Homo sapiens: one gene and its partners. The protein of the gene in region 5 purifies or fractionates together with the protein of the main gene of each other region. This does not show direct contact. Each region holds a gene or a part of one and is shown on either strand. Other genes may lie near its edges. The genes, in order: NDUFAF2, TRNT1, TNN, ANXA11, ACOT13, TPD52 and RAB31.

Region 1 (4,071 bases), on a different chromosome or scaffold from region 5:
CAATTTTTTTTGTCAATTATACTTCAATAAAACTCTCAAAATGCAATTACAATTATGTAAGAAAATATACAAATTAGTGAGAATATGTAAAAATAAAATATTCATGTTATTGTAGAATAGACATGACTGTTAATTTGAAACTTTAATGGTATTGTATCTCTATATAAATGAATGATACAAAAACTGGTATAAATATATTTGTTTGTTGTTTTTTGGGCTTGTTTTTTTTTTTTTTTTTTGAGGTGGAGTCTCACTCTGTCACCCAGGCTGGAGTGCAGTGGTGTGATCTCGGCTCACTGCAACATCCGCCTCCCAGGTTCAAGTGATTTTCCTGCCTTAGCCTCCCGACTAGCTGGGATTACAGGCGCGTGCCACCATGCCCAGCTAATTTTTGTATTTTTAGTAGAGATGGGGTTTCACCATGTTGGCCAGGCTGGTCTGGAACTCCTGATCTCAGGTGATCCACCCACCTCGGCCTCCCAAAGTGGTGGGATTACAGGCATGAGCCACCGGACCCAGCCATAAATGGATTTTTTAATGGGCAAAAGGTTTGAACAATACTTCACCGAAGATCTGTAGATAGTAAATAAGCACATGAAAAGACTGTCAACATCCTCAGGCATTAGGAAAATGAAACTTAAAATCACAATGAGATACCACTATATACCTATCAAAATGGCTAAAATAAAAATAAAAACACACCCAAAAATCAGATAATACTAAGTGCTGGTGAGGGTGTGGAAACAACTAGAATTTTAATGCATTGCTGGCAGGAATACAAAATGGTACAGCCACTTTGAAAAACAGTTTGGTAGTTTCTCATAAAGTTAAACACACATTGATCACACAACTTAGTAATCCCACTACTAGATATTTACCCAAGAGATATGAAAACTTACGTTCACACAAATCCTGTATGGGAATGTTTGTAGAGCTTTTGTCACAATCACAGAAACTGGAAACATCCTAATGTCCTTCAGCTTGTGAACAGATAAACTGGCAAACCCATACAATGGAATACTACTGAGCAATAAAAAGGAACAACTACTGACACATGGATGAATCTCAGCTACATTATGCTATGTGAAGCAAGCCAGACTCAAAAGTCTAAATCCTGTATAATTCCATTTATATGATATTCTAGAAAAGACAAAACTATAGGCCCATAAAACACATCAGTAGTTGCCAAAGGGTGTGGGAATGAACTACTAAGGAGTTGGAGGAAATTCTGATGGTGATGGAATTATTCTATTACTTGAATCCAGTGAGGTTACTCTACTCATTTGTCAAAAACAATAAAACTGTACACCATAAAGGGTGAATGTTACTGTATGTAAATTATATTTCAATTTAAAAAAACTCAGTCTGACAGTTTGCATATTTTTAATTTTACTGACAACTTATGGAAAAGAAACATCTCTCTGCTTGCAACCTGTCAAGAAATACTTAACACCATGCTATGTTCTTTGCAGGCTTTTTTCTTTTTTTGTGAGACATATTCCCTGCCTGACAGAGGAGCTCATTAGGGAAACAAGTCTAAATATTAAAATAAGTTACAGAAAAAGGCCAGGCAAAAATAAATTAATTGAGTGATAAATCACAGAATACATTTTATATGTGTGGGAAATGAATGGCACATAATCTTGGAAAGGTCTTAGTGCTTCTCAACATTGCTGATCTTATATTATCTCTAACTTTCAAGTGAGGATGTTGAGACTTGGAGAGGACAAGTACTTTTTCCGTGATTCCCGAGCTATCAGGTGTCAAAGCTGAGATTCTAACCCACGCCTCTTCGCCCAAAACCTGACATTTTCTGCATGCGGCGATGGAACAACACAGAAGAGGTTACGACGGCGGCTACACAGTGTGATTTCAATGGACAGCAACGCCTCCTTACTCCCCAAACAACCCGCTCAACTACTTGGCACGAATCCTACACAGTAACACCATGATTATTGCCACGTTTCTTAAATTGAGCTCAACGGGGTCTTGGAATGTCAACTCCCGAGAAAGGAATCAGCGAGCCTTGTGGGGATATGGACCTACTTCTGACAAGTCTTGGTAGTAAGGAAGGCGCATGGGGCCAGCGCCGGAGCCAGGGTGCCACCGAAAAGGGTAAACACCAAGAAAGAAGACAGCCGAGGCGCTGAAGATACTCCTCTTCAATTACACCACTCAGCTCTGGGTCACAAGGCGGGGAACAGCGTACGAAAAACCCCTCCCCTGGCCCTTCTAGCCCCTTTGGTGAAAGATTTCCGTGGACTTTTCCCTGCCTCCGTCGCCAGTCCAGGGCTAAAACTGAGGCTCCTCTACAGGCGTGGCTGGGAGGAAAGTGGTGGTGCGCCTTAACAGCGCAAGCAGCCCGGGGCACGCCGGGGGAAGGCGCTGGGTAGTAGGGACCGCGGACGCACGAGGCCGGGCCAAGGCGCCCAGAGCCGGGCCGGGTAGGGCTCCGATGCCAGAGTGAAGGGGTCGACAGGGGAGAACGAACTCGGGAAATTCTCTCCGGTGACACCCTAAGTGTCGCATGATGCGTTAGTTGACTAGGGGCTCTCACTTTTCCCTCCTTTACTGACCTCGCAATCACTGACCACGCAATCGCTGCCCACGCCGCCACCTCACCTCTCCAGTTCTTGTACTGCGGGATGTAGTAGTATTTGTTCCCGAATTGGTCCGTGCCCACGTGCTCCTTCACTTCCCTTGACAGCGATCTCCACAAGGCGCGGAACAAATCCTGAGACCAACCCATGCCGTCCACCCAGTTTCCAGCGCTGCCAGCAGCGGGACCCGCAGTAGGGGTAATGCTCCAGCCGCCGACCCAGCCCACCGAGGCGGAGAAGTCAGGTCGGCCTCCATCCTGGAGCCCTTCTAGTAACGGCGCTCACCATTGGCCGGATATATCACCGACTGACCAATGGGAGACTCTGCTGTTCCAGTCCCGCCCCTGAGCTCTGTCATGGCGACGTCCAGTGCTCCAGCCGGTGTGAGGACACGATATGCTGGGGTTTTTGTCCGCACGCCAAACGGGTTTGGAGGACCCTCTTCGCCTTCGGAGAGCAGAGTCAACACGGAGGTAAAGAAAACCTTACTTTTTGGCTAACAGGCCAGTTAGAATCTGGACCAATGACTGTAAGCTTTGCCCCACACTTTCCCGTCTCATCGCTCTCCTGCCACCAAACTATTATTTGCCCTCTAATGCTGTGTGGCTTGCTAAAATAGGATCCCTTTTATTTACTGGTAACAACTTGCAGGCGGGGGGCGGCGGGGGTGGGGGGGGTTCCCCGGGGGTGGGGGGGGGGTTCCCCCGCGGGCTCAGGTGAAGACACTATAAACCTAAATAAGAATACTTCGTTGTACTGTATTCCTTCTCTCTTAAGTTACTCCAAAGAATAACTGCCCTCCACGGACTCGTTCATTCATTCAGTCTGCATATTTAGTGAATTCCTACAGTGTGCCAGGCAGCCTATTAAAGGCAGAGGACACAGGCCAGGAATTGAACAAAGTTCAGAATGACTAGAGCGGAGAATTGGGGTAGGGACCATTGACAAGAGATGAAGTAGACAGAAACTAGATGAGGAAGAGCCTTGTGTACTTGAGTAGAGGTGTGAAGATGAGAATAAGGTAACAGCTATTGCATTTTGTTTTCTGCTTGGAGAATGGGTTGCAACTGAGAACAAGAGTGGGAGCCAAGTTAGGTAACTGTTGTGATTACACTTGTCCGGGAGAGAGTTGTTGGAAGCCTGGGCCACAGAGTTGCCAAGTAGAATAAAGATAGTGGAGAGATTTGAACAACGTCTGAGAAATAGAATCAACAGGCCATGGAAATTGAGTGGATACGTGAATGACAAAAAGAGAAGAATGAATAATGATTCCCAGATCTATGCCTTGTATAAGAAGTTGAATGTTGGTAATATACTCTGAGAGAGGGTTTTCCAAAGGGAAGAAGCAAGTTGTACTTTTAATTTTGCCCACATTAATTGAGGAACCTGTGAAGATATTTACTTGGAGAACACAGTTGCTTATGAGTTCTGCGTTCTGGAGAAATTTAAATATTAGTTTCCAACATTTTAT
Region 2 (4,211 bases), on a different chromosome or scaffold from region 5:
GCACCAGTCCTGTAATGAATGGCAAGTACTTAGCACAGCATACAGAAAAGCCATGCTTTTTACTGCAGTCAACTTCTTGCCTTTTCCAGTGATTTAGCTATATTTTTGGATCAGCCATATGTAAGCCTTTCTCTTTTAATATTCCTTTCTCTTTTTTTGAGACAGGGTCTCACTCTGTTGCCCAGGCTAGAGTGGCATGATCATAGCTCACTGCAGCCTCAAACTCCTGGGCTCAAACAATCCTCCTACCTTGGCCTCCCCAAGAGATTACAGGCTGGGTACACCCAGCCAAGCCTTTCTTCCAACAATGAAAACGTGCACATTGGGCACCGTGGCTCACACCTGTAATCCCAGCATTTTGGGAGGCCAAGGAGTGAGCCCAGGAGTTTTGAGACCAGCCTGGGCAACACAAAGAGACCCTCTACTTACGTTTTTTAATAAAAATAATTAAAACAACAATGAAAATATCCGAATGCTGGCTTAAAAAGTTAACCCTCTACTTCTCCATTTATATAGGTTTCCAATCAAGAAAAGGTATCCTAATCTCTCACCTGTCAGACTCTTCAGTCCTTCTGTGAAAAGTGACTGGAATTCGGGAGACTGCAACTTCATTGTGAATAGATACTGCTTCGGAAGGCACAGCCTACTCCACCTACGGTTCAGCACTGGCCTGTGCCAATGATACAGGCACCTCAGCATCTGGAGAGGCAGTCACCAACTACACATCTACAAGGCAAATACACAGGCATACCAATGAAATTAAAAGTGAAGGTAAGTGAAGGAAAACAAAGGGGGACACATTTCAAGTTTATCAACTCAGAAATTCATCTCTTGTTCAGATGAAAAAACTGAAAACGGTGTCAGTTTGAGGGATTACGACTAGGTCTATGTATCTACCTGGTTTTGTTCTCCAGAAGCACTTACTGTGGCAGGCGGGGTCTCACTAGCGCAGGCCTCCATAACTGTTTCAGTACTGACTGACTGGTTGAGTTACATATTAAAAGCTGAAAGAGCCAGCCAGTGCCCTTAAACAAGGCTAGAATGTAACAAAAGCCCCCCAAGAGTTTTGCCTAGGCCTTTCCTGGACCTTGAAGCATGATAAAATAACAAAGGAATTCTTTTTTTTTTTTTTTTTTTTTTTGAGATGGAGTCTCGCTCTGTCGCTCAGGCGGGAGTGCAGTGGCGCGATCTCAGCTCACTGCAACCCCTGCCTCCTGGGTTCAAGAGATTCTCCTGCCTCAGCATCCCAAGTAGCAGGGATTACAGGCGCACACCACCACATCCGGCTAATTTTTTATACTTCTGGGTAGAGACGGGGTTTTACCACGTTGGCCAGACTGCTCTCGAACTCCTGACCTCAAGTGATCTGCCCGCCTCAGCCTCCCAAAGTGCTGGGATTACAGGCGTGAGCCACTGAGCCCGGCCACAAAGGAATTCTTAACAGGACCCGTTTAGAATTAAACAAGTTTTACTGGGGATCTGAGGAAACTCCCCAGGCCTCCACGAACAAGTTTATTAGGGGTCTGAGGGAACTCCCCAAACCTCCATGATTTAGCAGGAGAGAATATAAGGGTAATCACCCCAGCACCTGGACCCATTTAGATTAAGTAAATTTACTCAGGCTCCAGAGGAAGGTCTTCAGGACTCAGATCTTATGGGTAAGAAGTTAATCACTTGTATCTTTAGATCAATGCACACTTACACATAAACATACAACTTACAAGGTATATAAGCTCTGGAAAGCTCTGTAATTCTGAGTCGGTCTGGGATATTTTCCACGCCTTCGCCCCGTACCTGGTTACAGAAATAAACTCCTTTCTTTCCTAGTTTATCTGCATCTCATTATTGGGCAGCGAGAATAAGCAGCCCAACCCTCGGTTTGGTGGTTTGGTCGGGGAGCATTACCACGACACTCGCATGCCACATGGTACTGTGATGACACTCTCCCCAGAGCAGGGCTTCAGGCAGTATGAGAGGGATGCGGGGTTCTAGAAACTCTAACCGAGTTTCTGGTCTCCAAAACTTGTCATGGTCACAGGTGGGTATCACCCTACTTCCCCACCTGCACTCGAGGATTCACGACCCTGGGATAGCTCCTAGACATTGTATTTTCCCATGAATTTAGTTTTGCTGCCCCCATTTTCCTGATTCTTTTCCTGCCATCTTGCAATCTCCTCTGATTTCTGGCACACCGCGGCCTTCCCTTCTACATATCACATCCTCGTTCTCCCCATACGGGGGTCCTGCCCATAAGGAGGCCGCAGCAGCTCTCGAGTGACCCCGGTGTAAACCTGCAGAGAAAAACCATTCCATTCCACGGAAGCGGGTGGAGGAGCCGCGCTTCCCGGCAGGCCACGTGGGGCGGAAAGACCCACTCAGTTTCCTCGCACCTCCGCCTCGACTTAGGAAAACGCTCTGGGGAACCCCAGCCCTGAAAAGGCGCGTCTCACCCCCCACGCCGGGTGCTGGCGACAAGGCCCAGTGAAAAAGCGTCTCGGGGCCGTCCGCGCGGAGGGGAAAGTGCTGAGGGAAGCCAAGGAATCCGCGCCTGCGGTCGCCGGAAACGTGGCGGGGACACGACCTCCGCGTCGGGGCTATTTTGCCCACTGCTGAGGAGGCCTCTCGCCACGTCCCGCTCCCGTCTTCCTCGAGGACCGGGCGCGGTGGCGCCTCTGGCCCACAGCAGGAAGGAAGGGGCAGCAACTCACGCCACCAACTCTGCCCCTCTGAGCGGCGCGCGCCCGCTTACCGGCCCCGCTGTTGCCGCAGCCGCCACCGCCGCCACGCGCACTTCCGGGCTGGTGAACGCGGTGACGTCACCAACGCACATGGGTTGGCGGCGAATGGGAAGTCGCGGCGGGGCGAGGGCGAGTGCGGGGGCGGGGCCCGGACCGAAGGGCTTCCGCCTCCCGTCGCTCCTCCCCACCGTGAGGCGAACCTCAGCCGGTTTCCCAGCCCCGCCGAGGCCCGCTGGGGCGAAGCGGAGCCCCGGGGGGCCCTGAGGAAACCGGCGCGGGTTCGTTTAATTACGCCCTTCTCGCCAGACCTCTGGCTGGCCCTGAGCTGCTCAGAAGCCCATCTGCGCGGCATGCCCGTGCGATCTGAGACAACTGGCAGCTGTCTTCCTTTGCAAAACGAGACTGTTAATAAAACCTACCCCAGGGTAGGACGGACTGTTCGGTAAATGTTAACTTATCCGTGTTTGACTATTCTCTCCTCTAATCTCTGCATAGGGTTAAGTCCACAGTTGACAGAGTCACGCGCATTCGAAATCTAAGCCCGCCGGTCCTATGAACTTACTGGGCATATTTTATTTTCTTACCTGGTTTGTGTAACCATTGGCCTCCTTGGCCCGGAGGCTTCCCATCTGTAACGTGGAGAACTTAGATTTGATCCAGTTCATTAATTCTTTCTAGAGCGGAAAAGAGCAAAGAGAGTGGCAAAGGAGTGGGAATACAGCCGTTGAGCCCTTAAAGTGCGAAAATGTGTAGTTTTTGTTTTGTTTTGTTTTTGAGACGGAGTTTCGCTCTTGTCGCCCAGGCTGGAGTGCGGTGGCGCGATCTGGGCTCGCTGCAACCTCCGCCTTCCGGTTTCAAGCGATGCTCCTGCCTCGGCCTCCCGAGTAGCTGGGATTACAGGTGTCTGCCACCACGCCCGGCTAATTTTTAGTAGAGACGGGGTTTTGCCGTGTTGGCCAACTGGTCTCGAACTCCTGACCTCGTGTTCCCCAGGCCTCGGCCCCCAAAAGTGCCGGGATTACTTTTGCCGGGATTCGGCCACTGCGCCCGGCCGAAAATGTGTAGTCTTTTAAGTGTAACTTTACATCACTTAGCTTTCCCTAAAATTTTCCTAGAAAAATGCTTGTGCATGTTATTTCTGTTCTTTTGCCCTCCCCACATGCCTACCTGTTCTTCCCAAACTTTTCAGCCCCACTCTCTGTAGACTTCCTAAAACGTAAAAAGTAAGATGTGCAATTACCACACCTCTTCAAGGTGTTGAATATCCTGTTTTTGGAAGCACAGGACTGGCTTTCCAAATGGACATTCAGAGGCACAGCATTGATATCATCCGGTGCAAGGATTTTCTGTCTCTCTCTCTCTTTGGGGCAAGGAAAGCCCCAAATCATCCTTTCAGGCTTGTCTGCTATTTCTCACCACCATGACCCTAGACAAACTGGACCAAAGCCTCCATTGCTGTACCCACCTAGAATA
Region 3 (3,500 bases), on a different chromosome or scaffold from region 5:
TCCTTGAAGATCTAAGCTGCTTTAAGAATGTTCACGAGGAGACAAGAATGTTTAAAGAGTAAGCAGTGATGCTAATCCTTCTAAACATTTTGGTGGCATTTGCTGGTGCACAGGAGATTCTGTTTCTCCAGATCAAGCCTCCACCATCCTCCATCTTGTTCTGTACCCCAGGCTGTGATCTCTGTGAATTGAGTCTGCCTGTTTACCTGACCCTTTGGCTTCCAGGTTCAGCTAGCAGGAATCACCAGCAGATCAGAGGGCAGGAGACAGAATTCTTTGGAGACACGGTGGACTGCCTGCATCCCTCTACCAAAACAACCCTACCAGGCAGCTCTTTTCTACAGCTCTCTCTGGGTCCAAGTACCAACATCTATCCCTTGCCCCTTCAGGCAGGAGAGTATCCTTATTGATGCAGGTCTTAGTGTGTCACCATCCAACCCCTACCCACACCTTTGTGAACAATCTGTTAGTTAAACTTTGAAATTTCATTTACCCCATTTGTGTCCTGTCTTTCCCACGAAGATGAATCTAACTGATACAGGTGGCTTCAGCAGCCTCTCACCCATACCTATCTGAACTTTCTGAATGGCTTTGGGGGTTCAGTAAGAGACTGGGGATTCATGTCTACACTTTGACTGCTTATGAGAAGGTGCAGACCCAAATAATCTCAGGGACAGAGAAGACCCCATGAGCCCCCATCTAGCAGGTCTTCATGGGCTTGGAGAACCCAGTAATCAGGGAGCAAGGAAAGAAGAGAGAGAACTGGGACTCTTCAGAACCTAGGATTGTGGCAGGTGTGTTTTTCAAACCCCTAATCAAGGCAACTGCCTACAGGTGTTTAATGAAAGAAACCATTTAGAATGGGGCCTCTCCTGGGAACCCTGGGGCATCAGGTGGCTTCCTCACCTGTGGTGGCAAGTAGATGCTGTGGGCTGCTAGAAACTTCATTCTTGACGTTACGCAGGGTGACTATGTACTTGGTTCCAGGCAGCAAACCAAGAATCTCATAGCTGTGCTGCTCCTTGGGCACTTGGATCTGCTTCCCAGAGAGCTCCTTCCCCAGGGGGTAGTAGCTGAGGAGGTAGTGATCCACCTGGCTGGAGGGCTCCCAGCTCACCAGCAGAGAATCCTCCGTGTTCTTGAGCAGCTGCAGGCCCTGTGGGGTGACCACTGCAGGCAGAACAGGAACAGGGCAGAGAGGGTGAGCAAGGGAGGCGATCCAGACCCAGTGAGTATTCCCTGAGCACTATAAGGGTGGGTGTGCAGGATGCAGACCTGTGTAAGGCGCCATTCCCGACCCCTAGAAGTTATTATCCGAACGACAGGTAATTAATACTGACCCCCTCACCACACACACACACACACTCACACACAGCCATTAGATCACAAGACCAGTGGTCCTCAAGGTTAGGGCCTCTAACCAGCAGCATCAGCATCACCTGGGAACTTGTTAGAAATGCAAATTCTTAGGCCCCATCGCAGAATCAGAAACTCTGGGGTTGGGACTCAGCAATCTGGCGTAGGCTAAAGGAAGAGACCCCCAAAGATGACAACGTGTAATTGAGGGTTAAATGGTGCATTGGAAAGAAGAGTCCGGCGGCCCGAGGGCACATCTCCGCTCTCACCCTGGGCACAGTCCAGGCCTGTGAAGCCCTCCTCGCAGTAGCACTCGCCCGTGTCACAGAAGCCGTGGCCGCTGCAGTCGCCGGGACAGCGCTTCTCGCTGCAGTCCTCCGACATGAAGTCTTCGTGGCACTGGCACACGCCGCGCACGCACTCGCCGTGTCCGCTGCAGTTCTCAGGGCAGGCCGGGTAGCCGCAGTCGGCACCCACGTAGGGCTCATGGCACAGGCAGCGCCCGTCCACGCAACGCCCGTGGCCGCTGCACGCCCCGGGGCAGGCCAGCCGCTCGCAGGCGGGGCCCTCCCTGCCCTCTTCGCAGTGGCAGCTGCAGGTCTCCAGGGAGAAGGTCCCGTGGCCGCTGCAGTGGCGGCTTAGATCTGGGAGGGAGAGGAGAAACAGTAGGTTGGGTTGAAGGGTTGTGCGTGGGGATCTCCTTCCTCTGAGATCAGCCATGCAAGACCCAGAAATCATTAGCCCCACTCTTAAGGGTCTGGTGATTTCTGGGTCTTGCACGGCTATTTTTTGGAGGATGGTGGAGCTCCACAAGGGAGAAAAGGTGTTGGCCCTTTCCAGCCTGGGCCAGGCTTTCTAATCTGTGACATCTGCAAACGTCTCCTTCTTTCTCTGCCTGAAAAGGCTGCAGGACCCACCCTTCTTTCCTTTCCCTTCCCGTGTGAATTCCCCGGTTCCTTCCTCTCTACCTGGTGGTCATTATTTAGTGCCTTCCTATGGAGGGGCCTTAAATGCTCCACCCTGGCCAGCTGACACTGCAGGGCAGGACTCCTGGGGGGAAAGTGAGATCCAGGGAGGTTGGAGTTTGCTGGAACTAGCAAGGCTGGGACCTTGTGAAATGAGCCCAGATTGAAGTCTGGAAAAAACGGAACTGCAGAAGCTACAAAATAGCCTACTCTCAACTATGGGTACAGTGGAGAAGGGATTTAACCAGGCTCCCCTCTCTGACCCTACACAGCAAGAGGCAGCTGGAGGGCAGACTGGTTAGTGCAGTCTCCTCTGTGGCCCAGCTTCTGCTTTTCAGAACACCTTCTTTCCTTCCTAAAAACGCTTCCAAAGTGGGAGCTCCTCAGAAGCAAGTCCATGCTGGTTATTCATGGCAGTGTCCCTGGTGCCGAGTTCTGTATCTGGATCTGATGGTTAAGGTGCTCTTTACCATAGCAATTCCTTCAGGCATGAAATCCTATGCCAAAGTACTGTTCATTATCATTGGATCAGCCTGGGCAGTTTATGTTTAAAAGTGACGGGGTTGCGTTGGGGGAGAACCTTCATTATTTGTAAAATTAAATTGTAATTATTTTACAATTATAATTGTAATTTTTACTAATAAAATAATTATAATTTACTGATTTGTAAATTCCTCTAAGGGCCAGGAATCTTCTACACATCATCTCTAGTTCTCAGAACTATACTAGCTGATAGAATCATCCCTGTTGGACAGTTGAGGAAACATAAGGGATTTACCCAAAGTCACACAGCTAAAAAGTGGTAGAACTGGGATTTGTAACCTGTCTTGTCTAGCTCCAAGGCCCTATCTTTCCTGTGTATCCCATTGCTTCCTCTCTGAGTAGCGCTTTGATTCACAGGTATGACGGCTCCTGGAAGCATTCCCATCTGGAAGCAATAGGCCAGGAGTCTAGACTCTCTGCAAGAGCTGCTGGTCCCTCCCTGCTCAGCTTCCAGATGCCCCCTGGAGCTAGTACCAGTGAATAAATGAATAAATAGCAGGGATGGGCCCCCTAGAGAAAACCCAGAATGAGAAGTAGGAGCACACCAGAGTCACAAAGTGCTCATGAGGCTAGTGGAAACCCTGGCACATAATAGGTGCTCATCAAATGTTTGTTGAATGAATACCAGGTGGTGAG
Region 4 (4,204 bases), on a different chromosome or scaffold from region 5:
AAAACAGTGGCTAAGAAGAGAGAGGAGGCCGGGCACGGTGACTCATGCCTGTAATCCCAGCACTTTGGGAGACTGAGGCAGGCAGATCACCTGAGGTCAGGAGTTCAAGACCAGCCTGGCCAACATGGTGAAGCCCCGTCTCTACTAAAAATACAAAAATTAGCCGGGCATGGTGGTGCATGCCTGTAATCCCAGCTACTCGGGAGGCCAAGGGAGGAGAATCATTTAAACCCAGGGAGCGGAGGTTGCAGTGAGCCAAGATTGCATCACTGCACTCCAGCCTGGGTGACAGGGCGAAATCTGTCTCAAAAAAAAAAAAAAAAAAAAAGACAGCAGAAGAAGAGGGGTGAATCCAGGAGGAAGGAGGGGGTGCACCAGAAAGGTCCCAGGACCTCTGATGTTCCAGCATTCAGCATGCATTTTGGTTCCACATTCAGCTCCTGCCCACACCAGTTTCTTTTCTCTATTCTACAATTTCCAAGAAGAACCCACACTAACCTATTCTGTCTCAACTCCCACTCCTGTCATCCCAAGCCACACATCACCTCCCCAATCACGTGAACTAGGCATCACTAATCGATCCTGGCCTTCTAGACACATCCACCCAGGGTGGGCCCTTTCTATAGTATCATGCATAAAGGCGTCAGGTGAGGCTTCCACTCCCACCTCTTAGTCCCAATTCATCTCCATCTCACCCTCCCCACGTTTCTCTATCCAAACCCAGCCTTCAAGGTCCTATATTTTAACCACAGGGAAACCACTTCCCTGTGCTGTCTCTGTTGTTCAACTAACGACAACTAATTTTCTGAGCACCTACATTAGGCAAGGCCCATCCTGAGTGCTGCCACCAAGAGGTAAGTCAGAAACAGCCCCCACCCTCCAGAGTCAGAGGACAGGGCAGCGATAAGCCACACCGCCACACAAATACTATGCAAGGCGAGAGATGAGAACCGAGTCAGTGCCAGAAGGGCTGAGTGAGCTCAGAGCATATCCCGTCCCTCCTGCTGGGAGCAGGCACCCGGATGGCTCCCAGGAGGGTGGAGAATGCTAGGCCAGACAGGGGAGGGAGGGCATTCCAGTAAGACAGAGAGCATGAGCTTAGCATGAGCTAAGCCAGAAAGACGGTTCAGGAGAAGTGCATTTCAACTTTAGCTGAACCTTCCACTGCTACTATTTATTGACCCTTACACCTGATTATTTATGACCCAGGCCTGCCTCACACACTTTATGGCTAATGTGGGTGACACCCATCTGGGATACACAAGTGTGGTGCAGCAGTCACCACCTGTTCTGACTGGTCCGTACCTGAGCTCTGTATTGTTATTAAATAAATGAATGCACTGAATCTCACAAGCCTGTGAGGCAGGGATTACTATTACCCCCATTTTACAGATGAAAAACCAAAGCACAGACAATAGTCAAAGAAAAGATAGCAAGGTATGCAGGAGCCTGAAGTAGTGGGCACCCAATGCCAGGGCAACAAACTGCCCTGGCACCTCACCTGGCCTCTCTTATCAGGGAACACCTTGCAGCACAAAGAATGCCTTGAGGAAAGGGGCCCTGTTAATCCCCTGGAATCCCCAACAATTGACTGCCGCATAAAAGGAATGAGGAAAGCAATGAGAGCCAGTGAAGGGTGAGCATACCAGGCCCTGCCCTGCAAACCTAGTCCCTGTTGCGTGGGCAGGGCAGGGCAGGGCAGGGCAGGGGCTCGGCCTCACAGCTCCACTCCATGCCCAGCGCAGAGAACAGAGGGGAGAGCTACCACAAACGCCGAATCTCTACAGAGAGGTCAAGGATTGGAGGGCAGAGACAGAAATGCCCCGGGCTGACTGTTTCCAGCTTGGGCTAGCACTGGCTGGCTTAACTTTTCCCCTCCAAAGTCTCTAGGTAACAAACTTCGCGTGTCTCCTTTAAACCAACAGACCATTTTACCTAAGTCTTAAGGGCCTGGCCTGCACCCATGGGAGATACAAGTCCAGGAATCCCTTCCTGAAACTGGGGATCAAGGTTGGGGAAGGGGCGAAGGCACGCACAGCACCTGGGATGGCTCCCGCATTCCCTCAAACACTGGGGAGAGTTCCTTACAAATAAACTGCAATGGTAGCAGCTCCCAGGAATGTGCGTGCTCCCAGTTTCGGAGGAAAGTTCCTGAAGATAGCCTTCTCTGCTTAATCTCCCCAAGCCTCGCCTAGAAGGGCGCGCGCACCCTGGAGGGCTCCGCAGGGCTGCGGGGCCGGGCCTCCGGCACCCCTCCCGCCACCCGTTGCCTCCTGCGCCCAGGGTCACGGCCCCTGGCCCTACCCAGGCCCAGACTGAGACCCCGACCCCTGAGCCCGGGGGGACGGCGAGTGCACCCCGACCACACATGAGGGAGCAGCCCCAGACGCCGAGGCTGATCTAGGGGGCTGCCAGGCCGACACGGCCCGCCCGCGACCCGCCGACGCCCTCCCCTGCCCCCCACCCCCACGCCTGTAGTGCAACCAGGAAGCCGCAGGGCCGCGCTGGGCTGGGCGCCAGGCAGCCCCGGGCCTCACCCGCGGCGCCGCGGTGCACTGCCGCCGCCTGGTCCCAGGCCCCCAGCCGGCTCGGGACCCTCACTCACCTGGCCACGGGGACTCCGGACGCGAGGGGCGAAATGGGACGTGGGCGGGAGTGGCTCTCTCCGCGGGCGTCCCGGGCGCGGCGCCTGGGTTCTGCCTAGGGGCTGGGTCCCACTCCCGCTCGCGGGGCCCGCGGGGCACTCGGGGCACTGGGGAGCCGCGGGCGCAGCAGCCGTCAGCGCCGGGCGGAAAACTCCGCGGGCGCGGCTGCCCCAGGTGCCAGAGGCAGTGCAAGGGAGGGGCGGGGCCTGAGCGCGGCCCCGCCCCCAAGATGAGGACTGGGCACGGCGGGCCCGCGAGGAGCAGCAGCCTTCCGGCTGCGGAGCTGCTCCAGGAAGTCTCGGGCTCCGGAGGTCCCTCTGCCGCCCCTAACCCCTGCGGCGCCCAGTGCCGCGCAGAGCCGCATTCGCCCTCCTGCAGGGGTGGGCATTTCCTAAGTCCTCTCCAGCCCCGTGTGCGTCGGTTAGTGACTCTCTTTAAGGTCGAGAAAACTTTTTACACTGAAAAGGTCAAACGCATTTCCTTTATAGCAACACTCGGTGGTGGTGGAGGGGGGAAGGTCACGCACAGTATGTGAGGAAGGGAGCGGTCAGTGACTATCGTGGAGAAACCTGACAAACCACCCAGCCGTCAAGGTGACCTCGACAGGGGTAAATCATACTGATTGCATGCACCGCTTGTGGTCTTCCTCCCAAGAACACCTAACCCCACTGTAATCATGAGGAAAACATCACAAATCAATTGAGGCCCTTGCCATATACATGACCAGTACTCCTGAAAACTAGCAAGGTCATCAAAAACAAGGAAAGTCTAGGACACTGTCACAGCCAAGAGGAACCCACGGAGATATAAAAATGACTTAAGATGTTAATAATAGGAAAAGCCCGGGTTTATGAGAATTCCCTGTATTCACACTTTTTCTGTAAATCTAAAGATGTTCTAAAAATAAAGCATATTTTTAAAAGGTCACCCAGGTAATATATGCATATATGGTAGGTATACAATTTTTTTTTTTAATGAGTGGTGGCTGACGCCTGTAATCTCAGCACTTTGGAAGGCCAAGACAGGAGGATGGCTTGAAGACAGGGCTTCCAGACTAGCCTGGGCAACATAGTGAGACCCAGTCTCTAAAAAACTAAAAATAAAAAATTCAAAAAATGAGTAAAAATTGAGATTCACTCTTCCCTCCACTCCCCCAGCCCACTCTTAGGTGTGTCCTTCCAAATATCTCTCTTTAACACTGTGTGTGTGTGTTTACATAAACGTATTGTTTACAAAACGATATTGCAGTACTTTTCTGCAACATGTTTTTTTACTCACTATATCTTGGAGGGTCTTTCCATACAAGTGCTCCTGAACAGACCTGGTTCTTCCCATCCACTGCACACTGCGCGCCATCGTGCGCTTCACCATTCTTCATTACCTAGCTCCTTACTGAAGGACATTTAGGTTGTTGCCTATGTTTGGCTGTTACAAACAAGCTGCTGGTTCGATTTTCCTTTTTTTTTTTTTTTTTCTGAGACGGAGTCTCGATCTGTCGCCCAGGCTGGAGTGCAGTGGCGCGATCTCGGCTCACTGCAACTTCCGCCTCCCGGGTTCAA
Region 5 (4,084 bases):
TTCAGAAGAAAATAACAGCAACCTATTTACACGCATAAGCCACTTTCATACCTGCCTACTGATGTATGGACTTCAGAATAACGTGGCCTATGTATATTTTCCAGGATTGTTCTTTTGTTTGTTGTTTTTCACCCTTCCTCCCCCTATTTTCTCTTCACAAGACATGGGAGTTCACAGCCTTCTAAAAATTAGCTTTCCTAATAACTTGGGACTTACCTGTCTAGGAATAAACCATCCTAGCATGAGCGATCAGATGAAATCTGGGACCAAAGACTCATTTTTCTTCTAAAATGCTTTCTCCAAAAAAAAATTTTTTTTAAAAAAAAGAAAAGGGGGCAAATGTAAAGGAAAATATCTTGGGCCCCCAAATCACTAAGTTAAAAGGAAAATTCAAGCTAGGAACTACTTAAGACAAACTTGCCTCCCATTCTATTCAAAGTCATCCCTCTGCTCATTGAGATAAATGTGTATCTGACTGCCTCCTTAGGAAAGGTAAATCAGAAACTCAAAAGAATGCAACCATTTGTCTCCCACCTACCCGTGACCTGGAAGCCCCCTTCCCGCTTCAAGTTGTCCCGCCTTTCCGAACCCAACCAGTGTTCATTTTACATATATTGATTGATGTCTTATATGTCCCTAAAACGCATAAAACCAAGCTGTGCTCTGACCACCTTGGGCACATGTTGTCAGGACCTCCTGAGGCTGTGTCACTGCGTGCGCATCCTCAACCTTGGCAAAATAAACTTTCTAAATTAACTGATACCTGTCTCAAATTTTTGGGGTTCACAAGGTTTAGTTATAAATGCTTCTTATGGAGCATGATTTTCTTACAAGCGAGGCAGGAGAATCGGATCTGGAGGCAGGGAACCTAGGGCTGTTTCACGCTGACTTCCTAGAACTAAATTGAAAGTAAAACCCTAACTTCCCACACCAAGTAACAAAAGAACCAGAGGCTTCTCCCTTTCCAAACCCCCACCTTTTCTGTGTGGCAGATGGGAAATTGAAAGTACCTCTGATTGGTTGCAAAAAGCAAAATTACGCTAAGAAGTAAGTTATCCCTTAAAAAAAATTATTCTTTCTGCAACCAATCAGATCTTCCCATAGGAGTGTAACTATGTAACTTCACCATCTGATTGCACGCCACGTCTTCGTTTGCATATAAGGGCAACTTTGTAACTTCACTTTAGCCTTTCATTGGTTGCTTTTCACAGCCAATTGTGGGTCACCACTTCATTTACATGAGATGAGTACCAAGTGGCCAATAGGAGACTTCAATGGGGTATTAGGGCCCCTGAGCTGCTGCTCCACACCCCAAACACAGGAGTGTCCTTTCATTTTCAGTAAATCCCTGCTTTTGGCGGGGCATGGTGGCTCATGCCTGTAATCCCAGCACTTCGGGAGGCCAAGGCAGGTGGATCACCTGAGGTCAGCAGTTTGAGACCAGCCTGACCAACATGATGAAACCCTGTCTCTAATAAAAATAAAGAATTAGCCAGGCTTGGTGGCGCATGCCTGTAATCATCCCAGCTACTTGGAAGGCTGAGGCATGAGAATCACTTGAACCCAGGAGGCGGAGGTTGCAGTGAGCCGAGATCGTGTCACTGCACTCCCGCATGGGCAACAGAGCAAGACTCCATCTCAAAACAACAACAACAACAAACACCTTCAAGGTCTGGCGTGGCGGCTCACACCAGTAATCCCAGCACTTTGGGAGGCGGAGGCAGGCGTTTCACCTGAGGTCGGGAGTTCGAGAGCAGCCTGACCAACATGGAGAAACCCTGTCTCTACTAAAAGTACAATATTAGCTGGGCATGGTGGCGCATGCCTGTAATCCCAGCCACTCGGGAGGCTGAGTGAGGCAGGAGAATTGTTTGAACCAGGGAGGTGGAGGTTGCAGTGAGCCGAGATCGCGCCATTGCACTCCAGCCTAGGCAACAAGGGCGAAACCTCATCCTAAAAAAACAAAAACAAACAAACACCTTCGGGCTTTGTGAGTGCTGGTCTCAGAAAAGCACTCAGTCTTCCTCCAAGGGCTAACTTACTTCTTCAGGAGTTGGGTGCCTTTGAGAAATTTCCCAAACCACTACAGAGGAACAACTTCTCCCTTCGTTCACCACTCTACCAAGCACTTGGCTTTTGTACCTTATTGCAATTATTTATCTTCTAATCTTCTAGAGCCTAGAGAATTAGACTGTAATGTGCCTTAAATGCAGAGGTTTCTCTTACTCTTCTCTGGAGCAATGCAGACGTTTGTTGGTTGAAGGATCAAACTCCAAAGTCCCTCCCAGCCTTGGAACTGTCTCCACGAGTCATAACCATACTTATCTATGTTTAGATAGAGAACTTACGCGTTCGACCCAGCATATTTAGGGGCTCCATTAAAGTAATAATCATTATTACTAAGGTGAATTTACAGGCGTACTAGAACACAACCTAACAAGAGATAATTATTCAAAGCTCACAACGGCACCAAGCACGGTGCTTTCTTTTCCTTCATTAGAAGCCACGGCTTCTCCCCTACCTTTCCCATACCTTTCCCAAAACTCTCTCAAAATTGCGAGCCTTGGTCATGGCCTTTATCACCTCCCGCAGAGACTGAGTCATGCTGGTCATCGTGGACGGTTTTCCAGCCTTTGGGCTTTGCGCAAGAACGAACTTCGGAAGAGCTGGAAAGTCCAGAAGTTAGTGAAAGAAGGAGGACACAAAGGGCGAAGAGCCCGCACCCTTCTCCGCCCCTAGGAGCGCAAGAGGCCGGGAGTCAGGCGAGCTGGCAGCCCCGGTGGTCCGCGATTTGCTCACTGACTTTCCTCGCACCCTTGTGACGAAGCGCGCATGCGCGCTTCGCACCCACCGCCCCGGCGGCTCCCTTGCGGCGCAGCTGCACCAGTTTTCCGAGAGCAGCGCATTTCCCCGCCGGGCGGTTGATGCGGGAGCGCCATGACACAGGCGCCTGCGCAGAGCCGCGCGTTGGCCTCCTGTTCCGCTTAAAGGGGCGGTGCAGAGGCGGCAGGAAGATGGAGTTGGGGAGTTGCCTGGAGGGCGGGAGGGAGGCGGCGGAGGAAGAGGGCGAGCCTGAGGTGAAAAAGCGGCGACTTCTGTGTGTGGAGTTTGCCTCGGTCGCAAGCTGCGATGCCGCAGTGGCTCAGTGCTTCCTGGCCGAGAACGACTGGGAGATGGAAGTACGCTTTCGCTGTCCTCGCTTCCGGCTCCATTACCTAGGTCGGTGGAGCGCACAAACCTCATCCCTTGTGCCTTTGTTTTTCAGAGGGCTCTGAACTCCTACTTCGAGCCTCCGGTGGAGGAGAGCGCCTTGGAACGCCGACCTGAAACCATCTCTGAGCCCAAGACCTAGTAAGTGATGAGGGGAGCGGGAGCCAGTCCGCACGGAGGCAGTTTGATACCAGGTAGCCCTGCGCGTCCTGGGACCTGCCGTGGAGCTGGGCGGACGATGCTGAGGCAGATCTCCAAGCTGCGTAGCCAGAGGAGCAGGGCTTGCGTTGCTGCTGCTGCGCGGAGTTGCGCCCCAGCAGCGGATCTAACACTGCACCAGACTGTCGCTTCGAACGTGATTTGGGGTCCAGGGAGGAAAAGATGGAAATGTAATGTTTAACTCAAATGAAAGGAAATAAGTAAGCGAGAGGTTTGAAACAAATGAACGAAGGCTAAACCTTCTATCGAAAAATGGCAACTTGGAAGTCTCCTTGCTTCCTGTATTGTTTATTTATTCTAGGCCCTAGGCTGACCGGCCAGAATAACAGGTTTGTTGTTGTTGTTATTTTTTTTTAATGCACACCTACTCCTGTTATTTCAGTGCCCCTCTCCAGTTCCTGCACTTAAAAAGTGTAGCTGCCTTACAAGGCCCTCTACTATTTGGCTCCATAACTTAGAACCTGCCTTTCCAGGTTCCAGGCCTATCAAACTTTTACTTTTTTCCAACGGGTCATTTTCTCCTGTCTTTGAAACTTCGTAAAGATCTTTATTACCTGTGCCTGGAATTTTTTTCTTTTCCCTTCCTTGCTAATATTTGTCTTAAAGCCCCAAGCTGAGACATGATTTATCTCTAGGAAGCTTTTCCTGATGTCCT
Region 6 (3,500 bases), on a different chromosome or scaffold from region 5:
CCATGAGTGATTGCTTAAGAAAATAATCTGCATCCATAGGAACAGAGATGAAGACTACTATATCATCCTTCCTGCTTATACTCTAAAGACTTTCCTCCACCTTAGTTTCCTCCAACAACTAATCAGATAATCAAAGAGTCTGCCTGGGAAAGAGAAAGGTTTCCTCAACATCACAAAGTCTCTTTCTATAAGGCATGGTTTGAGCTAACATCTTTTTAATGTGCTTTTTTTAGCTTAATATTCTTTTCCCTTTTTCAAACCATGAAGTTGCCTTGTGTACATAAAGAATATAACAAGTGTAAAGAAAGAATAAAATCATAAAAACTATAAGCTAGTAAAACAAGTATTAAAAAGTGCAGAGTAGTGGCAGATTTTACCTTATGTATATTTTACCACAACAACAAAAAAAAAGGTAGAGTAACCAATAGAAGATGGAAGACTAACATCAGGAGGCAGTACATATGCAGTCTGTTACAATTGTGTAATGAAACCCAGGTGAAGAATTCCAACATCCTTACAAAAGTACCAAAGAAACAAAAGCATCAAAACAAACAAAGTCAGACATTAAAAGGGAGGAATTTTGCATGCCATGGTAAAGCTGCTTCTTTTTACCAAAGAAAAAAGTAAAAAAGAAATGTCAAAATCATTTCCATATCCCTTGAACCACAGTGTCAAATACTTCTTTTAATTTATCAACTACCCATGGTATACAAGAAACCCTCCCTTGAAATTAGGAATGCACTAGAGAAAAAGATACTCTAAACGCAAGAAAATTATGTACTGGACAAACACGATCATCCAACGTAGCATGGTAATCTAATCTCAGCACACTTTTCTTATACAACTGCTGGACTGCAGTGATGGTTCAAACTCTCCTTACCTAAAGGAATGTGAAAAGGCTTGCAATCTGTAAGAAGCCAGAGTAAGCATTAAAAAAGAAAGAAGTTCTGATAAATCTAAAACAATTAAATAACCTAAGTTTTAAACATATAATGTTTTCCCTGGGCTCTAAACTGCTACACAATTCAGTCAGCATAGAGAAAATGAACACCTAATAGATACATACATAATTGTCAAAAGAGTTCAAGAAAGCTATATTTATTACATTATGCTTAGACAATGACAGTCTAAATATAATGAGCGAGGAATTTGTTCTTTTGGTGTAAAGTATAACACATAAATTGACCAAATCTATTCAACCAAGAAATTCTGGTTGTAAGATATACACTTTCCCCACAAATGCAAAACACGAAGCCATGCAATCTGAGCATTTTTTTTTAAACACAAATCTTGCATGCCAACAGAAGCACAGCTGACTTAAACCACATTTGTCATTTTCATCACTATCCTAATCCACATGAGTGAAGGGGGGGCACAAAAGCACTGTGAAGTGGTTTTATAAAAATGGCAAGGAAAACTCTGCAGACTAATCTAAATGAAAAAAAAAAAAAGCAACAACTCAAAATCAAGATTTTGGCCTAAGCATGAACATAGTTACAGCTTACCAGTTAGAATAAAACAGTGCACAAATGAGCATGTTGTAATCACACCATGATATAAAATGTCACATATAGAACGTGAAGCCAAATCTGAATCGAAGCGTGCACTTCAGTGCTCCTGTAGTCATCCTTAGTAACACACCAGGCTCTGCCCACAATCACAAATTTGCAACCAAAGACATACTTACCCTGCATGATCATGAAGAACTAAAAAGACAAAGAAGTTCACAACCAGAATTTTTCAACAACCTTAAATGATCATCAGATGATCATTTGATGTTAGAATGCTAGGCCTAGAAGACCTTAGATGAGCCTTCCAGGTACTGGTTTGAAGGAGTGCCCTCCCTCACTCTAACAGGAGTAGCTAGCATCAACTAGAGCCAAGGTCAGGAAACAGATGCAACAACAATAACATTTTAATTTGCGTCAGCTACTTAATGAGCAAGGAAAAATGAGGACATACTTTACATCTTCCAGCTTTTTGGTGATGACTGAGCCAACAGACGAAAAAGCAGCTGAGGCCTTCTGTCCAGCCTGGGATAAGGTTTCAGATGTCTTCTTGTAACTATATTAAATTATAAACACACAGAGCAAAAGAAGGGTCAGCTCATCTTTTCTAATATCAATTGTTTCAAGTGCAGTGGTCACCACCTGCTGGAGAACTCTCAAAAAGAGAAAACATTTTTCAGAACTTCTAAAATCCTTCATAACCAGCAGAGCGGCATCACCACATCTTCGTATGCTCAACCCTAAGCTCAGGCACAATCTTCTGCAGTGCCCTAGTCCAGCCAGAAAGACAGAGTCCTATAAAGGCAGGGCCAAAGAAGTCAAGGTAAGGGCTAAAAATAATCATCAAACCAAGATGAAAATAAGCAAAGGCCTGAAAGAACTCATACCTATTGTTCTTTTCTCACATAATCCAAACAAAACAAAAATGAAATCAAATTCCTCAGATGCCTTTGTCAACTTGATTTCCTAAAAAAGGGCCAGAAGCAATTAGTAGCTGGCGTAAGTAGGACCCATTTGTATTTTATTATCCAAATACATTTTATGGGCATACTTTCTAAAAATTTTTGCATGTCTTTAGAGAGCTACCAAATACGGACATGATGGACTTTCAACAAAGTATGTAAAATATGCAATGCTTAAAATTATTCTAGTGTGGTATCTGCTATCACGCAAAGCTATAATTTACCACCTCCTTCCCAGCTACCTGGAGATTAGAGAAGAGAAAAGCAAAAACAAAAAAATGATGACAACAACAACAACAAAAAACAAAATAATATCGTACCTACCAAAACAATTCCCACATTATGGGAAAGAATGCTCAGGCATTTTTACTTACCCTGTCAAGATCAAATACCAATAAAAAAACATGGTTCATGGTAATACTGTTGAAAAAATAGTTTCCTGTATGTTTTCCCACTGCCAACTTAGATGGGTAGAAAATGGACCAAAAGACTGGGGACTCAAGTACTGTCATGTTAAATGCAGTTGGCCTCACTTCTGATAGTTAAATTGTAAAACAACTTCTGTGCTCACCAGCTCTGCAGATGGCTCTCAATACAGAAGACAGAGCAGTTCGGTTTCTGCTGCTAGAAGCTTGCTCCTCCTTGTGCCGGGAAACAAAACTGCATTATGATAATGCTATATCATAGCATGTGTGGTCAAAAAGACAAAAAGCCTAAGGGATTGACCTCTGCCAAGAGCATATATCTGAGACTACGACCTGAGAATCTTTTGATACCTACACAACAAGGTTAAAAAAATACATTAATAATAATAATAAAGACTGGCTCCAGACCTGAGTTTGAATTCCCACTCCACATTTTGAGAGGTTTGTGACATGAAAACTTAATTTGTCTGAGCCTGTTTCCTTATCCAGGGTTATCTTGCCACCCATTCTTACTGGGTTATTCTGAGTACTAAAGGACAAAATGTACATATTTGTGGCAAGTCAATACATAACACTTATGGGATTTGAATTTTATTTCTCCAACT
Region 7 (3,500 bases), on a different chromosome or scaffold from region 5:
TCCAGTTCTCTTCACTTCCCCAAAGGTGATTCTTGATCACGCGAGGTCCCTAGATGTTAATAAATACTACTTGAAAAAAAGATTTTAAAAATGAATGGGAATTCTGAACTAAAACCAAAATAAATAGGTTTCTTTACTGTAGAAAATTTTCAGAGCCTTTAATGCACTAATTATGCTTTGTAAACCTCCAGGGAAGCATGTGGTGTTTCTCAAACTTATTTGGCCAGGAAACCTTTTTTCCTGGCCACCTCCACGTGGCCTGGTGTTCTGCAGAAGACCCTCAGGAAAATACCACACTAGGCTGTCTTGCCTCATGTGCCATTTAATATTTTACAAACACCTAAGTCTAATTGCTGCTGGATATTCCATCATATGGCTAAGCCAAAATTTATGTGTCCATTCTTTAATTGTTAGACATTGAGATTGCTTACAGTTTTTCAGCATCATTGATAATTTTCAAAGGAATTCTGGTTACTTTGTAACCATCTCTGATTATTCCCTTAAGAGGTGGAATTGTCAAATCAAAGTATCTGAACATTTGCAAGATTCTTGAAACACATTGTCCAGCTGCTTTCCAGAAAGGTCATGCTCGTTTATTTTCTACCAGCTGCGGGCAGGGTTAATGTCCATCTGCGAAAGCTGAGCAGCCGGAGAAGCTCCAAGAGCCTGAAGAAGGCCGTTCCCGTCTCCCCTGCCACAGGGACCTCCAGCAATTAGAAAACAAATAATCACACACACTAAGGACATAAACAGCTATTTCTTTTGAGGAGACACACTGGGTTTTCACAGTTCCCTGTGCCGTTTCTAAATAATTGAATGACATCTGAAAAATTTCTCAACATTTTAATTTGGTCTTCTAGATGTTTTGCTGGGTAGTCAGGGAAGAAGGGATTTTGAATTGGCATCTGTTGTGCTAATTTTCAAATAACCTTTCAAGGTAAGATGTAAAAATAAAGCTTTATCAGCCTCTTGTGACTGTGAACTTTATTTCCAGAAGAATCTTTTTATGTGAGCATTCCATCAGTCTTATTTCTGACCCCACAGGAATTGAATTATGTCATGTTGAGGACTGAGGCTGATTGTGGTGCTTTTGCTTTCTATTTGTAAGGGGGAAAAGCATAAACATTGTAGACTAGAAGTGATTTATCTTTTTGTCCTCCACCAAGATCACCCTTTGGTCAATGCATTATTGGGTTTTGGAACTGAGACGTGAACTTCTAACTCATTAAAACCCTCAAGTCCCCAGCAATAAAGTCATTTAAGTGGCTTCACCAACAGAGATTTATTTCAAAGCGATTCCATTTGGAGGAAGGAAAGAATGAGTAATGCATTATATACCAAGATCGCTTCAATAATTCATGAGACCTCCATGCCAGTGACCGTTTTAGATTCAGTTCATGGTGTTTTAGCCTAAAGTGAACTCTCTCTGTCTTAGAAGACACCCGCAGTTTGCTCCTCTTTGAGCTTGAGTCCATGAATATCTTTACTTTTGGGAAATAAAGTTTGTATTGACTGCTACTTTGTGCGTTTACATGAACCACTCTTATATGGAGGCTATTTTGAAAAAAATGGGCATTTTGTATAATTGGGGTAAAAGGATACTTAATCTGCGGTCCTTACCCTTTGAAAAGTAGGAATGTTTAAAAAAAATTATTGCTTTTTCCTTCCTTTGGGCAGGAATTCTGATTTTGTTTTTTAAGTGTAAGGAGTAGATTGCCAAATGGTGGGTTAAAAATAGATTTATGGATGCCTAATAATTATGCCAAACACAGTGTTGGGCCGTCAGTGAGTACGGAAAGGCATGCATGGCAAATGTCGCTGTCCCCAAGTGCGTTCTGGAATGGGGGCAGTGGGTGGCGCCGGCCCTTCAGCATCTTCGGCCACCGCACAGTTCAGCTGTGAACTCCTTGGTTCACCCTGAGCTTCGTCCAACCTTCTCCCTTTTCTGAAACCCGCAGAGGCTCCAGAGTCCTTTCTCTTCAGGATGGAGACCTGCATGGAGGGACTGGAGGCAGGGAGGGTGGCCCACTTCCTTTCCACACTATTGTGAGTGCCTCACCAGCATTCCTCAGTGCAGTAACAGGGAAACCTGGGGACTCAGATTTCCAAATACCATCATTTCAGTTTGGCAAGTATTGATCCAATGATGAGTATCGTGGGAAAGAAAATAATAAGTTAGGGTTTTGTCGCTTGCCAGAAAAGCTTCAGGATCCACTTCTCCTTCCTCCCTGCTCTCTCCCCACTGCCCAATAAAAACAGCTGCTTTGTTCAAAACTTAAAAACCATATTATTTAAAACTCATTGTAAAAATTTATGCTATACAGATGCTTGTAAGGAAAATGTAAAAATCGCTGGAAATCCCACCTGTTAAGATTTAGAGGAACCTCGTGTTATTCCTGCTCACAGAGACATACTCCCACATACATTTTACCCTACATTATATTATCATATAATGATAAATTAACCACATAATAAATGATAAATTATATGCTATATGTGCTGTTTTGAGACTATTTCTCATCTAACAGTATGTCAAAGATCTCTTTTCCTATAAATAAAAATCATCATTTTAATGGCTATAGAATATCATTACATACATATATGTATTAATCTGTGCACAAAATAACATAGACTGGGTGGCTTAAACAACACACGTTGATTTCTTACCATTTGGGAGCTGGGAAGTCCAAGATCAAGGTGCTGGCAGATTCAGTGCCTGTGAGGGCCCCCTTTCTGGTATGCAGATACTCGCCTTCTTGCTGTATCTCACATAGGGGCAGGGCAGGGAGAGAAGGGAGATCTGGTCTCCTTCTCTCCTTATAAGGGACTAATCCCATCTGTGACCTCATCTAACCCTAATTACCTCCTAAGGGCCCCACCTCCTAATACCGCCACGTTGGGAGTTAGGGTTTCAATACATGGATTTTAGGGGAGACACAAACATTCAGTTCATAACATTATACCATGAGTCAATTCCCATTTACTCCCATAAACAGCGCAGGGATGTGTCTTCCTGCGTGTGATGGTCACTCCAGTATATATTCCTCTAAGTGGAATTGCTGGGTCAAATGGGACACACATTTCAACTTTTGATTATATTACCAACAGTTGCTTTGAAAGAAGATATTCAGCACATTCCATGTAGAGTATGTGTGCCTCCCTTCCCAAACCCACACCAACACTGAACAGCACAAATCTTTTTACAATTTAATAATTTATAAGTGTCTCCTTATTTTTATTGGTGTTCTTCCGATTCTAATTGAACATGTTTTAAAATATTTGTTGGCAATGTATATGTCTTCTGTGATTTACCTTTATATATATCTTTGTCCATTTTTCTATTAAGCCATCTTTTTCTTATTGACTTTCAAAACCCCTCCAGGATACTATTTTTTTTTTTTTTTTTTTTTTTTTTGAGATAAAGTCTCACTCTGTCTTCCAGGCAGGAGTGCAGTTTTGCAATCTTAGCTCACTGCAACCTCTGCCTCCCGGGTTCTAGC

Evidence for each region.
Region 1: the proteins of ACOT13 (region 5) and NDUFAF2 fractionate together in Homo sapiens (co-fractionation; one large-scale study listed by BioGRID). This does not show direct contact.
Region 2: the proteins of ACOT13 (region 5) and TRNT1 fractionate together in Homo sapiens (co-fractionation; one large-scale study listed by BioGRID). This does not show direct contact.
Region 3: the proteins of ACOT13 (region 5) and TNN fractionate together in Homo sapiens (co-fractionation; one large-scale study listed by BioGRID). This does not show direct contact.
Region 4: the proteins of ACOT13 (region 5) and ANXA11 fractionate together in Homo sapiens (co-fractionation; one large-scale study listed by BioGRID). This does not show direct contact.
Region 6: the proteins of ACOT13 (region 5) and TPD52 fractionate together in Homo sapiens (co-fractionation; one large-scale study listed by BioGRID). This does not show direct contact.
Region 7: the proteins of ACOT13 (region 5) and RAB31 fractionate together in Homo sapiens (co-fractionation; one large-scale study listed by BioGRID). This does not show direct contact.

The regions. Positions count from the first base shown.
Region 1 is NC_000005.10:60,943,934-60,948,004, reverse strand, and holds the start of NDUFAF2 (NADH dehydrogenase [ubiquinone] 1 alpha subcomplex assembly factor 2), read right to left. Parts: upstream 2,801-4,071; 5' UTR 2,750-2,800; coding exon 2,623-2,749; intron 1-2,622. Other genes in the region: ERCC8 (DNA excision repair protein ERCC-8), read left to right, coding at 2,997-3,073. UniProt on the Homo sapiens protein: Acts as a molecular chaperone for mitochondrial complex I assembly. Complex I functions in the transfer of electrons from NADH to the respiratory chain. The immediate electron acceptor for the enzyme is believed to be ubiquinone.
Region 2 is NC_000003.12:3,125,529-3,129,739, reverse strand, and holds the start of TRNT1 (CCA tRNA nucleotidyltransferase 1, mitochondrial), read right to left. Parts: upstream 2,801-4,211; 5' UTR 2,750-2,800; exon of another isoform or gene 1,722-2,749; intron 727-1,721; 5' UTR 700-726; coding exon 552-699; intron 1-551. UniProt on the Homo sapiens protein: Nucleotidyltransferase that catalyzes the addition and repair of the essential 3'-terminal CCA sequence in tRNAs, which is necessary for the attachment of amino acids to the 3' terminus of tRNA molecules, using CTP and ATP as substrates. tRNA 3'-terminal CCA addition is required both for tRNA processing and repair.
Region 3 is NC_000001.11:175,077,833-175,081,332, reverse strand, and holds part of TNN (tenascin-N precursor), read right to left. Parts: intron 2,001-3,500; coding exon 1,626-2,000; intron 1,171-1,625; coding exon 907-1,170; intron 1-906. UniProt on the Homo sapiens protein: Extracellular matrix protein that seems to be a ligand for ITGA8:ITGB1, ITGAV:ITGB1 and ITGA4:ITGB1. Involved in neurite outgrowth and cell migration in hippocampal explants.
Region 4 is NC_000010.11:80,202,738-80,206,941, forward strand, and holds the start of ANXA11 (annexin A11), read right to left. Parts: upstream 2,801-4,204; 5' UTR 2,606-2,800; intron 1,755-2,605; exon of another isoform or gene 1,502-1,754; intron 1-1,501. UniProt on the Homo sapiens protein: Binds specifically to calcyclin in a calcium-dependent manner. Required for midbody formation and completion of the terminal phase of cytokinesis.
Region 5 is NC_000006.12:24,665,793-24,669,876, reverse strand, and holds the start of ACOT13 (acyl-coenzyme A thioesterase 13), read right to left. Parts: upstream 2,801-4,084; 5' UTR 2,614-2,800; coding exon 2,533-2,613; intron 761-2,532; exon of another isoform or gene 1-760. Other genes in the region: TDP2 (tyrosyl-DNA phosphodiesterase 2), read left to right, coding at 3,015-3,179, 3,266-3,351. UniProt on the Homo sapiens protein: Catalyzes the hydrolysis of acyl-CoAs into free fatty acids and coenzyme A (CoASH), regulating their respective intracellular levels. Has acyl-CoA thioesterase activity towards medium (C12) and long-chain (C18) fatty acyl-CoA substrates.
Region 6 is NC_000008.11:80,049,565-80,053,064, forward strand, and holds part of TPD52 (tumor protein D52), read right to left. Parts: intron 3,112-3,500; exon of another isoform or gene 3,042-3,111; intron 2,065-3,041; coding exon 1,963-2,064; intron 1,707-1,962; exon of another isoform or gene 1,688-1,706; intron 908-1,687; coding exon 881-907; intron 1-880. Other genes in the region: TPD52-MRPS28 protein, read right to left, coding at 1,963-2,064.
Region 7 is NC_000018.10:9,809,301-9,812,800, forward strand, and holds part of RAB31 (ras-related protein Rab-31), read left to right. Parts: intron 1-3,500. UniProt on the Homo sapiens protein: The small GTPases Rab are key regulators of intracellular membrane trafficking, from the formation of transport vesicles to their fusion with membranes.